2 separate regions of the Homo sapiens genome follow, and region 2 is linked to region 1. A link means that fine-mapping ties the variant in region 1 to the expression of a gene that starts in the linked region. Tissue or cell type: monocytes after LPS. Region 1 holds a variant in brackets; the other region holds the start of a gene. All regions are shown on one strand. Distances are between the middles of the regions.

What was found. PIP is the estimated chance that this variant, and not a neighbour inherited with it, causes the effect.
Region 2: it holds the start of VNN1, and the variant in region 1 is fine-mapped to the expression of VNN1 in monocytes after LPS (Quach 2016, PIP 0.95).

The regions. Positions count from the first base shown.
Region 1 is chr6:133,403,861-133,411,971 of GRCh38, reverse strand. All of the region lies in intron 3 of EYA4 (EYA transcriptional coactivator and phosphatase 4), which reads right to left. Among named protein-coding and RNA genes, the nearest start is that of EYA4-AS2, 49 kb to the left of the region's middle. RefSeq lists an enhancer at 894-1,426. The variant G/T (reference allele first, on the strand shown) is at 3,705.
Region 2 is chr6:132,710,489-132,718,599 of GRCh38, reverse strand. It overlaps VNN1 (vanin 1), which reads left to right and starts at 4,545. Exons shown (of 7, transcript NM_004666.3): 1 at 4,545-4,774; 2 at 6,761-6,891. The coding sequence starts at 4,565.

The DNA of each region.
Region 1 (8,111 bases):
GACAAGAACTCCTCTGCCATGCTGGCTTTGACTTTTCAATGGTATAAGCTTGATGGAATGCTATCTGGCAAAATGTTCAGGAGCTTTAAAATATGCATGACCTTTGACCTGAAATTGCATTTCTAGAAGTTCACTCTAAGAAAATCAGGAATATGAGAAGATTTATGCACAAATATATTCAATGAATTATTTATAAGAGGACAAATTCTGAAAGGAACAGAAATATCCCCAAATAAGAAAATGATTACATACATAAATTATTATGTGCTCTGATATATTATGCAAATAACTTTCAATTCTATGGTGAAATATTCATAAGATAATGTAGAGTTTTTAAAAAGCAAGATAGACTGAGTCATACATTTTATGAAACAAAAATTAAAAAAAGACCGAATATATATATATATAGATAGACAGATATACAGATACACACACACACATATATGGAAAATTAAATGTGCCAAAGTGTGGTTAACTCTGGGTAGAGTGACTGTGTTTTTAGTTTAATAAATTGAGTATTTTCTGATTTTCTAAAAAGAACATGCAATACTTTACTGATTACAGATATTTAAAAACCATGCTGGTGTTTCCCTTTGATGTGCTTTTCTCATGGAGTTTCATATTTGTGCTCTATAACACAAGTAATAATTGGGTCCCGCTCCATAAAAATTTATTAACTATTTCACTCAGCACTGCCTGGGAACAAGGAGTCTCTTGCTCATCATAACCTTCCCCCACAGTGTCTTACAGAGAATAGAGTGTATGTTCAAAAACCACCGAATCAAAAAAATAGTAAGTCCTCATCTGTTATCTTCTGTTTATACAGTTGTACTATACAATAAAACATCATGTAGTGTTAAACCGTTTGTTGCTTGTATGCAAAAGTAAAAATAAAGTGCTTGTAAGTAAACAGTTCAAGCACATAGCCCCCTCTGTCTTCTGATTAGGCTTGAGAGGGCAGAAAGTCAGGGGGTGGTGGGGGTAGGCTGGGGTCAGGCGGGGGAAGGGCAGGGAGGAACAGCAGAGGGGCTGAGGGCTCATCCCCACCTCTAAAGCTCCAACTTCAGTACTGCTACTTTGATCTTCTTCAACTCTCTTCCCCTTCCCCCATGCCTGAAGACTACAAAATGGTAAAATGCAACAATGCCAAGGATGAATCAACACCTGAGGGTAATAATTTAACAGGCCCGCTAGGGAACCAGAGCCCTGTTTGAAGTGGACTGCAGGAAGCCCCCAGGAGGAGAGAAAAGCCCTGCCAACAGGAGGGACTGCTGCTGCAGGACAGAGTAGGGAGCCTTCAATGCAAACGGGGAAAACACATGATTGATAGAAGGAATTAAGACCTTAGTTCTATGGAAAAATACAGAAGTTTTTTTTTTTTTGGTTAGGAGGAGCTCTTTCAGTCAATTCATGAACTTTACTCTTGAATAAAGCTGTTAAACTTCATGTTAGTTTGTAAATTTTTATAAATTTGTGACCTTAATAGTAATTATCCAATGTCCTTAATTAAGTTGGATTTATATAGATTTAAATAATACCTTCTCAAAATAATATATTTTCTTCCTCTTCAACTTCCTACAATGCTGTTCACTTTAAAGTTTATATCCAATTTAAAAAGCAGCAGCAAGTAATCTATATTTAAGAAACACCAATAACACATCCCTATTTGAAAAATATTTACTTTACACGAACATTTTACTCATGTTGTATTCAATAGGAAGTTTCAAGGACGCCAACCATTTACTTAGACAAGTTTTAGTATACTATCATCTCATTAAATTAATGAAATCTATTCATCAATAGATACTAAGAACACTTAGGACATGGTCAGAATCTGACTATATATCTATATATTATCTCTATCTAAACTGGTTTTGCAAATATTAGTAAATTTGCTGCATTAAAATTTTAATATGCATAGGCTGACGTATTTGAAGTGTTTCAAAAGCTTAATAACTCTATTTTTTAAATATCCACTTAAATGACTCTGAAGAAGGGAACAGAAATTTTATATGGGGGGAGGACATATATTTAAGGTGTACAACATATGTTTTCATACACATATACTTAGTAAAATGATAAGACAATCAACATATCATTTCTTTCACAGTCACCTTTCTTTTTTGTGAAAGATTTTCTAACATCCATACTCTTAATAAATTTCTGGTATACATTACAGTATTATTGACTATAATCTTCACACCAGTGCTTTAGATTTCTAGAGTTATTCATCGTACATAACTGTAACTTTGTAAACTTTGATCCACACCTCCTGATCCCTCCTCCCATCTCTGGTAACTACCATTCTACCCTCTGTTTCTATGTATTTGACTTTTTTATTTTTAGATTCCACATATAGAGATATACATAGGTTATAGTTGTATTTGAAATGTTTCAACAGCTTAATAGCCCTCTATTTTAAAATATCCATTTAAATTACCCTGAGGAAGGGAACAGAAATTATATACAATTTCTATCTATCTATAGAAAGTACGTGTATTCCACATATAAGTGAGATCATGCAGTATTTTTCTTTTTGCGTCTGCCATATTCACCTAGCATAATGTCCTCCAGGTTCATCCATGTTGTCACAAATGGCATAATCTCCTTTTTAAGGCTGAATAACACTTCTTTTTTTGTGTGTATATATTTTGCAATTTCTTTATCCATTCAACCATCTATGAACACTTCAACTGTTTTCCATATCTTGGTTATTGTGAATAACGCTGCAATAAACATGGGAGTGCATACATCTCTATGTGGGGCTGATTTCACTTCCTTTTTGGATAGTGAATAGAAGGTTTTATGCTCCAATTTTGGTTGGGAATAATACAGGTTTCTAAATTACCTTGCCAACCCACCCTTGAGTAGACCTTTGTCATTCAGGACTTTTCCATGTAACAGAGCAGCTACAGACTAATGACCTATGGACCACTGAGTCACTAACTTCATTTCACTCATAATAAAATCCAGATCAGAACAGGGAGTCTGCAAAATCAAGTCTAGTGAGTGGAAGGTGAACTCTTTTTTTCACTATGTAAAAAGGAATTAAAGTTACTCTCCACTAAAAGTGACCACACACCTCCATGAGCCTTATCAAAATTAGCATTGAACCACTCAATATTAGTCCCAAATTTAATCCTAAATCATACACAAATGAGAACATATTCTTGTCTGGTGAATACCATGAATAATCATGACATCATGACTAACACTCACTGAGTACTTAGTCGCGCCAGGCACTGTCCTAAAAGCTTTGACAGTGTAAACCATTTAAACCTCATGGAAACATATGAGGTAGATATTGTTATTATCATCCTGTATGTGGTTAGGGAAACCAAGAAGGCACAAAGAGATTAAATAACTTGTCCAACACTGTATAGCTAGCAAGTGGCAAATCCATGTTTCAAATTAAGCATTCTGGCTCGAGAATCTACATCCTCTACTAGATTGCCTTTGTAATAATAAATTTAATTTTTTTTTCCAAAACTGAACTTGCTGAGATTCATTTAATCTTATGCGTAGATTCTAAGAACCAGACCAAATATATATGTATTTTTAACCTCTACATAAATCATTCAAGAGGACAAGACTATGCAGACAGTCCATCTACAATGTAACCACATAAAAGAATTCTGGGGAATCTGAGCCCATTAACAAAAGTGTGCATGGAATCAGCCAAGAAGCCAGATGTCTCCCTCAGA[G/T]GAGGAGTATCTTCCTAGCTTTTCACTGAGACCTTCAGCCAGGTATTCCCCAACAAAAGATGGAGGAAGGACGGTCTGTTCACCATGCAAAGGGGCCAAATGTAAAATGATTGATGTGTTTAGTAACAACCTTGAAGTTTTTAGTAGTAAATACTTTTTAGCAAAATCCAAATTGCAGCCCCAACAATTAATAAAACTCTATAAAGATATGTATTATAGTTCAGGAAAGTTTGCATAATGAAAAAGTTAAAGCTTTGCCTAATCCCTTTTTCATGTTCAGCTCTTAATGTAAGTCAGGTTTCCTTTTCTTCCCCCCATACTTTAAATCCTCCAAAGAATGCTAAAGAAAATCAGGCAAGCAAAACAAGCAGCTTTTGATTCTCTGGCACTCTACCATTTGGAAAACAGACTCAAATTGCATGACAGATAGTGGTCTAGGAATTTGAGAAATATGAGTTGGTTTCAATAAGAAATACCTTTATAAGGAAGCTTTAGAAAATAGCAGCAGTATTTTTCTTTTATTTTTTTTTCCTGAAAATTAGTAACAAACATCAGAACCCTAAGTTGAATTTGAATCTATATAGAGCTCACTGTTTGATCCACAAATTCTTACTGGGCTCAACTTAATTGAATTTAGAAGACGAAAACTGCTGAAGCTGAGAAGATTTATGATTGCATGTTATCTGTGGCACAGGGAGTCTCTGGATTATTCAAAAGTGAGGGGGGTTGGCATGCTGTGGAACTGCTTCTGCTAAGCTTGCTGTAAGGTGAAGCTACTGGGGAAAAATCTGAAGGCTCCAAGAGCAAGGAAGGCGGGGGTGAGTGAGTAACAGCCAAAGCCCTGGTGATTTGGAAAGAGTTTGCACCTGTAGGGTCCATCGCCTTCTCCTCCTATCCTCCCATTCAACATTTAGTCCAACTTTAAGAAACACTACAAATTCCCAGAGAATATGTAGAATAATCTAAATAAATCTCTTTCGATAAATACGTTTCCTTCCAAAAAAAAAAAAAAAAAACCCTAGACTCCTTTATTTCACAGTGTAGGTTGATAAAACTATGTGATAACAAGTGGTTGATAAACTGAATTAGCACTTTAACAATTAACTCAAATATCCCAATGTAAGGAGTTTAATTAGACCTTTCCCAAATTAAAAACTTGATCTCAAAGTTTTTTCTTATCTTCTGAATTTAAAGACATTAGTAATATATTATGTATTACACTGAGATATGTCATACCAGCTCTATGTAAAATCTGCTCAAGAGAAAGACAATATAGTTGAAACCTAAAAGCTAAATAAGTGCTTACTTTATTCTAGAAAAACAAATGCTATATACACATTATTTTTCTATTCAGCTTTCTCTATAAGTAACTTTAATTTTAAATTATTCTGCATTTCTCCCTAATTTACACTCGAAAACCTATAGAAGACTGAAATAATAAGAGACAGATTTCATACATTTCATTTTCATTTTAATAGAAAACCTTCTAGAATTAAAAATCGCATAGTACACTTGGAAATTATTTTGTTAAAGTATAAGAAACAGGTTTTATACAACCTGTTAACAGCTTTCAATCTGAAAAATGTATATAGCTAACTGAAATATCTAATTGAATTTAACTAAAATATGCTGGCAATTAGGTGAGGGCAACACAGAATTATGAAGACCAAGGCACTGAACATCATGACAAATCTTAGAACATTTTTAATGAAGAGAATTCACAAAATATATACTCATTCAAAGGCTTTCAAATGCTGACCAAAGCTTTCCTTTTGACCTTACCTATCACTCCTGCCTTCACAGATCCTGCACTGCCAGTGACTCAGTGGGTGTGCCCCCGTTTACACCATTGCATATGATGTGCCGTTGGCATTGTATGCCTCTCAAGGTGCAGTTTGATGCCATCTCTTCCAAGAAGCCCAGATGTCATTCTCTAGCTGTTTCTCTGGCCAATGAGTAGTCATTTCCTTATGAGAGCTCATCTCGTGTCATGAGTCCTGTATGTGTCTTATCTCTGATTATTTCGTAAACTTCTTTTGGGCAAGAACTATATCTAATAGATTTTACTTTCCTTAAAATACCTAAGATAGAACCTGGCCCATGGTAGGTGGTAAATAACTGCCTGGTCAATTAGTAAATAAAAATATGAATGAAGTTTGACAGCCTATACAATATATATATAAAGTAATCTGATACAATGTTACTAAATAGATAGATAGAAGATAGGTAGGTAGGTAGGTAGGTAGATAGATAGATAATAGAATTTAGCAGCATTCTCTCTGCTCTCCAGTTGACTACACAGTTCCTAAAATACAACAGACATGCTCTCACCTCAGGACCTTTGCACATGCTGTTCTCTCTTCCTGGGACTCTTCTCCCAGACAGCTGCATGACCCAGCCCTCATTTCCTCCTTAGTGAGACCCAGCTCTCACTAAGGCCTTCCCTGGCCAGGCAATGCAAAATTGTCACCCCCTTCCCCCCATTCATTCTCTCTCTTCTTTTCCTGCTTTTTCTCCATTGCACTTACCACCTCTAATATACTGTTTTGTATATTAATCTTTATTATTGCTTGCCTCTCTCCACTGGAATGTAAACCCCAAAGGAGAAACTTTTGTCTGTTTTATACTTTGCTGTAGCCCCACCTAAAATTGTGCCTGGAACATAATTGACATTCAATAAATAACTGTTGAATTAATTTGTTGAATTAATGACTCAAGAGTATTCACCTTTCATACATAGGAAATAGAATATAGAATACCGAGAATGATTTTTATGAGATCTGTGGAAATCAGTCACATCATCACGACAATGCAAGAATAAAGAAGTTAGTAGATGGCCTTGAGTTTTCCCAAACAATGGCATTTTCTGCTACCAAAATAAATATGTTATTCAGTCAGAACCACTGGACTATAAGAAGTATATTCCATTCTGGTTTTTACTGGGGGAAAGGATGTTGCCACAAGATGTCAGTCCATTTATTCATTCATATATCCAATAGATATTTTATGACCACTTCCATGTGCCAGGAGATGGCTAAGATCCTTGGAAGACAGATAAAATGCTACCTACCAACTCAAAGTCCAGTTAGGGAGTCAGGGGGTAAAACAATATTCTAGCACAGTGTGTTGAGGCCATGGCATGGTGAGCACAGGAGCCTGAAGGAGTGGATGGAAAAGGCACCTCAGAATCATGACACTAGGAAATGATTCTCAGTGAAGCAGGCTCTTAAGTGAGAAAATAAAAGTTGAGGAACTAAGAGCGACTATGTTCAAGCAGAGAATAGCATGTCTGAAGGCAGCTACGAATGAGTAAGCAGGGTACTGCCAGGGTAGAGTTTTAAAATAGAATGAAATCGTAGATGTTGAATCAAGTGAACAGGGAATTAGGGTTTCCCATTTCTCTCTCTCCTCATGCGAAGAGCCAAGGAGACTAGAAACTGGATACAAGCAATCCACTTTAAGGTGGGTGATGAGGCAGGGCTACACGTGAACACGAAGGACATCCCGAAACTCAATGAAAGTCGTATTTATTACACACAGACTTACATTAACTGATAACTAAATGCATAGGAAGTTACTAGTCTCAAATGTTTTGTGTTAGAAAAAAGCTTTACTATTCAAGCCAACAACTGGAATTGCTCTCTATGACTAGAAGACTGTGGGTGCTGAAACTAGAGATTATTTTTGTTTTATTTAGCATGACCATATGTATTTTCTGTCTGAAGAATCTACAGTGTAGTAGATCCAATGTAGTAAATTTGTAATACGAAAAAAAAAACAGCTCTGAAAGTTTTACAAAAATTATTAAACTAGGAGTAGCTACTTGTCAACCTTGGTTAAGAGGAGGTATTGTCTTTCCTGTAGGATCACAGTGACAGAGACAAACAAAGCTCTTCAATAAACACTGGCTGAATGAGTGTGAATGGACAGAATGATGTTATTAATCGCTTTGGTAACTGGGGATCTTATCTGCTCTCCCCTCATCACTGAGTAACATCCACATTAGAAAAGAGATGATGTGCTTTGTCTTTTTTGTCTAATCTCTCTCTTATTGGCAACACTCACTGAACTGAGAAAAATAAGTGAACAGGGGAGTCAGTCCAAATAAAGGGCTTAAATTCCTGAGACACTCCTGTTAAAAATACATGACAGGAGGCCGGGCACAGTGGCTCACGCCTGTAATCTTAGCACTTTGGGAGGCTGAGGCGGGTGGATCACCTGAGGTCGGGAGTTTGAGACCAGCCTGACCAACATGGAGAAACCCCATCTCTACTAAAACTACAAAATTACCCAGGTGTGGTGGCACACGCACAACTGTAATCCCACGTACTCGTGAGGCTGAGGCAGGAGAATTGCTTGAACTCTGGGGGCAGAGGTTGTGGTGAGCCAAAATCATGCCATTGCACT
Region 2 (8,111 bases), 690 kb after region 1:
CCCTCATTTCAGAGAGGGTCCCACCCCATACCCTAGAGGAAGAAATGCTATAAAGAGATGTCAAGACAAACCTGAACAGACAAGCTTTACTGGGTTTCCCCACTCAAACTGTTAGTATGGGATCATAACCTTTTTGTCCAATCGCATTTCTACATGGTTGTCAATCGTGACTATGTAATGAAGCTTCCATAAAAACCCAAAAGGACAGGGTTCGGAGAGTTTCCTTACAGCTGAACACGTGGAGGGTTCCTGGAGGGTGGCACACCTAGGGGTGCGTGGAAGGCTCTCCAGTCCTTCCCCCATACCTTGCTCTATGCACCTCTTCATTTGTATCCTTTGTAATATCCTTTACAATAAGCCACTAAAGGTAAGTGTTTCCCTGAGTTCTGTGAGCCACTCTAGCAAACTAATTGAACTAAAAAAAAAAGGGGTCATGGAAACCCCAACCCAGAGCCATTTGGTCGGAAGATCTGGAAGCCCAGACTTGTTACTGGTGGGAAGGAGGGGGCGGTTTTGTGGGACTGAGCCCTTAACATGTGGGATCTGATGCTATCTTTGGATAAATAGTATTTGGATTGAACTGGAAGATAGCCAGCTGATGTCTGATGCAGAGTCAATTGCTTGCTTTCTAGTGGGGAGAAATCTCCACCTACTTGGGAGTAACCAGTCTTTTGTGTTAGTTGTTGTGCTATGAGACCAGAGGAAAAATGGATTGTTTCTCCTAAAACCAGATTAATGTCAACAAAAGAATTGACATTGTGTTGTAGCCACTAAATATTAAAATATGGGCGTATATTTTGAGTAGCAATGCAGAGGCCGACTGCCAATCAATCTTTTATCAGACACAAGTATATGGACACACTTTTACATGCTGTGCACATGGCTTTTCAGAGTTCACCAGGTGAAGTGCAAGAGGCAGTGCCCACTCCACTCAGTCCTTGCTCTTCCCTCCTTTTCCCTTGTTTCTGGTTCTCTCTGCGTAAGCTGGGCAGGACTTGCTTCTGAGTTCCTCTGGGGACCTGCTGCCTGGGGTGGGGTGATCACTGCTGTGCTAGCAAAATCCAGAATACTGTGGGTCTTGCCCTATTCTGGACAGTGCGATGTCATGTTTTCCTTGCAAAAGGCAATCTGCTCCATCTATGCAAGTTTGGTTGGAGGAGTCTGGAGGTATCAATTAGGGCTTTTGTCTACACTCAAAGTCATTTCCTTGGAGACAATTCTCCCAGTTTCTACTTTGTGTGAGCAGAAGGGCTGCATTTGGGGACCTTGGCTGGCTGTAGCAGTAGGGTTAAGGATCCAGAGAACCAGCCTAGGAGTTGTAGTAGAGGCTGCTGGTGCCTCCCAGTTCCATGTCCTGCTGATGATACTCTACTGCAAGAACTGCACTGTTTCTATTTCTATTTCTTTCTTTCTTTCTTTCTTTTTTTTGAGACGGAGTCTCACTCTATCACCAAGCTGGAGTGCAATGGCGCAATCTCGGCTCGAGGCAACCTCCGCCTCCCGGGTTCAAGCAATTTTCCTGCTTCAGCCTCCCGAGTATCTGGATTATAGGCGCCCCCGCCCCCCACACTGCTCCCTTCCATGCCCAGCTAATTTTTGTATTTTTAGTAGAGACAGGGTTTCTCCATGTTGGTCAGGCTCATCTCAAACTCCTGACCTTTGGTGATCCTCCCGTCTCGGCCTCACAAAGTGCTGGGATTATAGGCATGAGCCACCGCGCCTGGCCGAACTGCATTATTTCATCTGAAGATTTGCTCTCAGCTAGTACATGCTAAGTAGGCCAGAAAGGGTAGATTCATGTGGCAGTGACATGCTGGAGGAGGGACAAGGTTATTGGTCCTATGATTTAGTCTCAGTCTTTTAGTGAGCCTGTACCCCTGGGTTTATGAACTTCACTTGGCTTTTTTCTTCTGCCATTAGTTGGCATAAAAACAAGCTAGAGATGAGATTTTCCCTTTCCCCAAGTTAAAGATTAGAGTGGCTGGGGTTGGCATTTTTCCTTCCCCTAGGTAGGTTAGGCTCTGGTAAAATACTTTACTTTGAGGGCAGGCTTTTGTTAAGAAGAACAGACCAGAACTCTCAAGGTTGTCCACCCTGAGCCTCCACCAATTCGTCAATTACAGTTCAAGTGAACCCACGGTACTGGCGCCAGCCGCAGAGGACTCTGCTCGCAGTACACTCTTAACCTCTGTATCTGCCTATCTCTGCAGTTCTGAGGACCGCAGTTTATCCTGTGATCTCAATTCTCTGATGCATCCTAGAAAAGTTGTCGATTTTCATTTGTTTAGCTTTTTTCTTGGTGTGAGCATGGGAAAAATGACTGCCAAGCTCTTTATGAGTTGGACTAGAAACTCCACGGGAGGTTTAATATTTTTAATCTAAGAAGGTCAAGAAGTAATTTTTTAACCTCTTGCCAACTCATCTCAGTTTTAACTTTTATTTCAGTGCTTCCTTTTACAAATTGTTACATAATAATGACATCTTTTTGTGAAATATGTGGTATTCCCACCCACCTGGGCATGGAAAGGCCCTAAGAGGTCAGCAAGCAGTTAGAGAAGCTGGTGTTTACCGGAAACTCAGGAGAACCAGCCAACCACAACCCCTGGGTTACCTTGGCAATTGCAGAATAAATGCATTATAGTTACTAAAGTAAAAAATTAGATATGCCTGTTTGCAGATTGAACTATAAAAATACCATTCAAAGACAAATAGATCTAAAAATAAAATGGAAAAACATAAACACTAATTCTGTAAATATTATACTTAATGCACAACTGAAACAAAATTTGCCAGCTTACTCAATATCAAAATCTATGAACAGTTTTTCTATTTTATATAATTTCCCTCTCCTCTCTCTGGATCTCGCTCCCCAGCTCATTTTTTCTTTTTTTTGCTCTGATTCTTTATACACCTCTGTTGCCTCTGTGATAAGCAGCTTCAAAGATGGTTCCTAATGCTTTATTGGATAGAATACAACAAAAGCGATGAGGTGTTGCTTCCCCAATTACATTACGAAGCATCCGTGGCTTCCATCTCCAGTGGGTTCACTTGCTGTCTGGCTCTAAGGGAATCCAGATACCATAATGCGGGCTGCCCTATGGTGAGGTTTGCATCACTAGGAACTCATGTCTCTGGGCAACAACCAATGAGGTCTTGATCCCTGCCGTCAGCCACATGAGGGAGCTTGGAGCTCGGAAGTGAATCCTCCTGGAGTCAAGCCTTGATATAGCTAGCCCTGGCAGCTGCTTGACTGCAGCCTTGTGAAAGAGACCTTGGGCCAGAGGCACCAGCTAAACTGCCCCTGGATTCCTGACCCAGAGAAAGTGGGAGATGATGTATTTTTGCTTTTTGAAGCTGCTGAATTTGGGGATAATTTGTTATATAGCAATAGAAAATGAGTAACTCTTTTGTATTCCTCTTTGTCCTGGCTTCCCCATTTTGAGGAAAATAAAGTAAATCAAAGTGTAGAGCTGAAATATTCACATGAAAATAATAATAAAGTTTTAAAATTATTTGAATGTCTTGTGTTGACATTCCAAAATATATGAATTCCAAAAATTTATATGTTGAAGTCCTAACTGTCAGTATCTTAGAATGTAACTTTTTTGGAAAAGGGGTCATTTCAGATCTAATTAGTTAAGATGAAGTTATACTGGAGTACAGTGGGCACTAAATCGAATTGGTCCTATGATTGAGTCTCAGTCTTTCAGTGAGCCTGTACCCCTGGGTTTATGACCTTCAGTTGGCTTTTTTCTTCTGCCCTTATTTGGCATAAAAACAAAGCAGGTGGATCACCTGAGGTCAGCAATTTGAGACCAGCCTGCCCAACACGGCGAAACCCTATCTCTACTAAAAATACAAAAAATTAGCCTGGCGTGGTGGCGGGCGCCTGTAATCCCAGCTACTTGGGAGGCTGAGGCAGGAGAATCACATGAACCCGAGAGGCGGAGGTTGCAGTGAGCCGAGATTTCGCCACTGCACTCTAGCCTGGGTGACAAGAGTGAAACTCCATCTCAAACAACAACAACAATAAACAAACAACAACGATGACAAAAAAAGCTAGAGCTGGGATTTTCCCTTTCCCTGTGTTAAAGATTAGAGTGGTGTCCTCACAAAAAGGGAAAACTTGGATACAGGCACACACATGGGGAGAATAGCATATGAAGAGACACAGGGAGAAGGCAGCCATCTATGGGTCAAGGAGAGAGGCCTGGAACACATCTTTCCTTCACCGCCCTCAGGAGGAACCAACTCTGCTGACACCTTCATCTGGGACTCCCACCCTCCAGAACTGCAAAGCAATAAATTTTTTATTTTTTACACCACCCAGTTTATTGTATTTTGTTAGGCAGCCCTAGCGAACTAATGTACATAGAGTTCTTGAGTTAATCTTCACAAATTACTGCAATAAGGTAGGGTCTTTTGTTATGTAACAATGCTATGAAATCATAGCGTTTTCTTAATTAACTTCCGTAGTTTAAGGTACTAAGTTCTGGACACCACGTGTCTTCTTTCTATAAATACCAGGACATGCTCTGTTTTTCAGCACTCATTGGACTTCAGCATGACTACTCAGTTGCCAGCTTACGTGGCAATTTTGCTTTTCTATGTCTCAAGAGCCAGCTGCCAGGACACTTTCACTGCAGCTGTTTATGAGCATGCAGCGATATTGCCCAATGCCACCCTAACACCAGTGTCTCGTGAGGAGGCTTTGGCATTAATGAATCGGAATCTGGACATTTTGGAAGGAGCGATCACATCAGCAGCAGATCAGGTACCATCTCTACCATCTCTCCAGTGTACTGGATTCTATGAGAAAGGAGGGGGTCCTAGGAGACAGGGCCACTGTCAGGGTCAGTTACACTTTTAGATGATATATGTATCAGAGTAGCCAAGAACCTTTATTTTACAGTTAGAATTCTACTTTCCTCTCAAAATTAGAGCAAGGACTTCCCTAAAAGTAAGAACAAAGTTAAGAAAAGAACAATTTGCTCATTATCAAGAAGCAGCAGACCTTTGAGGAACTGGCCATAAATTCAACATCTTTGTTCCCCTTTTCTGGTACAGATGGAGGATGGAGGATAAATGGGTCAGGGACTAGGTGCTATTTTCAGAGTATTAGTGGCCTTCATGTACTCATGTGCTATTAAGGCTTTGCAGGTTTTCGAATAAATTTATAATCTGAAAACAAATTTAAGTTTTCAATTCCTTGCCAGCATGCATTATATACTTCACACTTCATTCTAATTACAAGATAAAAGTATATGTAATGCATTGTGAGTCCTTAAGTTTAGTGAAGGTTTCAGTTTGAAGTTAATCATACAGTATAAATTGTGGTTTACACAAATATTATTTTAAAAGCTATTGATCGATTAGGTGTAGACCAGGAATACATGAAGTGTGATAAAAGTCATGGATAAATGTGTATTACATATATCTATAAATATATATTCTTTTGTGTTGTTGAGTTAAGGTCTCACTCTGTCACCCAGGATGGAGTATAGTGGTGTGATCACGTCTCACTGCAGCCTTGACTTCCCGGGCTCAGGTGATTCTCCCACTACAGTCTCCAGAGTAGCTGGGACCACAGATGCATGCCACCGTGCCCAGCTAAGTTTTGTATTTTTTGTAGAGATGGGATTTTGCCATGTTGCCCACGCTGTACTTGAACTCCTGACCTCAGGTGATCCACCTGCCTTGGGCTCCCAAAGTGCTGGGATTACAGGCATGAGCTACCGTGACTGCCCTATATTCTTATATATACTAATATTTAAAAGGTTATCAGGAGTTCTGATGTTCTTTTTCATCCTTAGTCCAACTATTTCCTTGAAGGTCACAGAGCTTTTTAAGGTGACTCTCTAATTGGAAGGTGCCCAGGTTAGCTCAGGCAGTACTTGTAGGCATGGGACAGTTCAAGTAACCAGTTTGTGGCTCCTCTTTTTCTGAGAAGCAGGAATCATGTTTGCAGGGGAAAGCTAGGGCAGAGGAGGAAATAAACAGAATATTTAAGTTATTAATCAGTCTTGACACAGGCACAGTCATCAGCGAAAGTTCAAGGAGAGGCTTGGTTCCAGGATAAGCTAGGTTTATAGTTAACGACTGCCATAGGAAACAACAATGGCAGGATTAGAAAATTAAAATGCTTGACTAAGCCAGGTGCGGTGGCTCATGTCTGTAATTCCAACACTTTGGGAGGCTGAAGCAGGCGGATCACCTGAGGTTGGGAGTTCAAGACCATCCTGACCAATATGGAGAAACCCCATCTCTACTAAAAATACAAAAATTAGCCAGGCGTGGTGGCAGATGCCTGTGATCCTAGCTACTTATGAGGCTGAGGCGGGAGAATCGCTTGAACCCGGGAGGTGGAGATTGTGGTAAGCCGAGATCTAGCCATTGCACTCCAGCCTGGGCAGCAGAGCGAAACTCCATCTGAAAAAAAAAAAAAAGAGAGAAAAAAAAATGCTTGACTAGAAGCCCAAACCTCACCATTATGTAACATATCCATGCAACAAACCTGCATTTGTACCCTTTGAATCTAAAATTAGAAATAAAGAAAAGAAAAGAAAAAGAAAAAGAAGTGACAGTGCACTGAAAAAAAAGGAAATTAAAATGCTTTGGAAAAGAAAATAAATTATAAAAATATAGAAAACAAAATAAGATTTAAGGGGTGTGGGGGAAGCCCAAATAGTTGTTACTCAGCCACTCAGCTCCTCAGCTCCTCTTGCAGGCCCCCCTTTGGATTAAGTTGCATTTTTAACAGGGTGCGCATATTATTGTGACTCCAGAAGATGCTATTTATGGCTGGAACTTCAACAGGGACTCTCTCTACCCATATTTGGAGGACATCCCAGACCCTGAAGTAAACTGGATCCCCTGTAATAATCGTAACAGGTAAAGAAACAACTTGTGAAAAATTCACTAGTAAACATCAACTTGATTTACCTGGGAAAACTTTGTTGATGATCATTGCATAGATCCATGATCAATTCTTAAGTTTCAGTATAGCTTATTTTTCATCTACTATGGGTATATTTACTGGGAGAGCAAATATGAATTATGAAGTCACAGAAGTCAGAGCTAGAAAGTAGCTTAGAAATCATCACATTCAGTGTGAACATCTCTGGTCTCTGACTCCTCACCAGTGAACAGAAAAATATTTCCCTGTGTAGGTCTGTGATTTGAAAACTATATGAGTAAATGGCAAAAGAGAGTCACATCAGTTTAAGATTAATAGTTTTCCTTTCTCATTGCTAAGATAGCTGATGAGGTTAATGTAGTAAAGTCCTTAAAGTGTAAGCTGATTGTAATCTAAGAGGTGATATGGCAGGATTTTAAGTGGTTTAAGTCAGGTCTCGGCTACAGAGATATTAAGTGTGGTGAAAGCAGCACTATTAATTTTAATGTAAGGAAACCAATATCTTATACACCTAAGAAAATCATGTCGATTCACATACTTCTTTCTGAATACACATGGCTAAAATTATTTTAGGAATTCCTCTTTTGGAACTATTCTCAAAACCGCACAACGCCAGTTAGAATGGTGATCATTAAAAAGTCAGGAAACAACAGATGCTGGAGAGGATGTGGAGAAAGGGGAACTCTTTTACACTGTTGGTGGGAGTATAAATTAGTTCAACCATTGTGGAAGACAGTGTGGTGATTCCTCAAGGATCTAGAACCAGAAATACCATTTGACCCACCAATCCCATTACTGGGTATATACCAAAGGATCATAAATCATTTTACTATAAAGACACATGCATGCATATGTTTATTGCAGCACTGTTCACAATAGCAAAGACTTGGAACCAACCCAAATACCCATCAATGGTAGACTGGATAAAGAAAATGTGGCACATATATACCACAGAACACTACACAGCTGTAAAAAAGGATAAGTTCATGTCCTTTGCAGGGACATGGATAAAGCTGGAAACCATCATTCTCAGCAAACTAACACAGGAACAGAAAACAAAACACTGCATGTTCTCGCTCATAAGTGGGAGTTGAACAACGAGAATACATGGACACAAGGAGGGGAACATCACACACCGGGGCCTGTCGGGGAGTCGGGGGCTAAGGGAGGGATGGCATTAGGAGAAATACCTAAT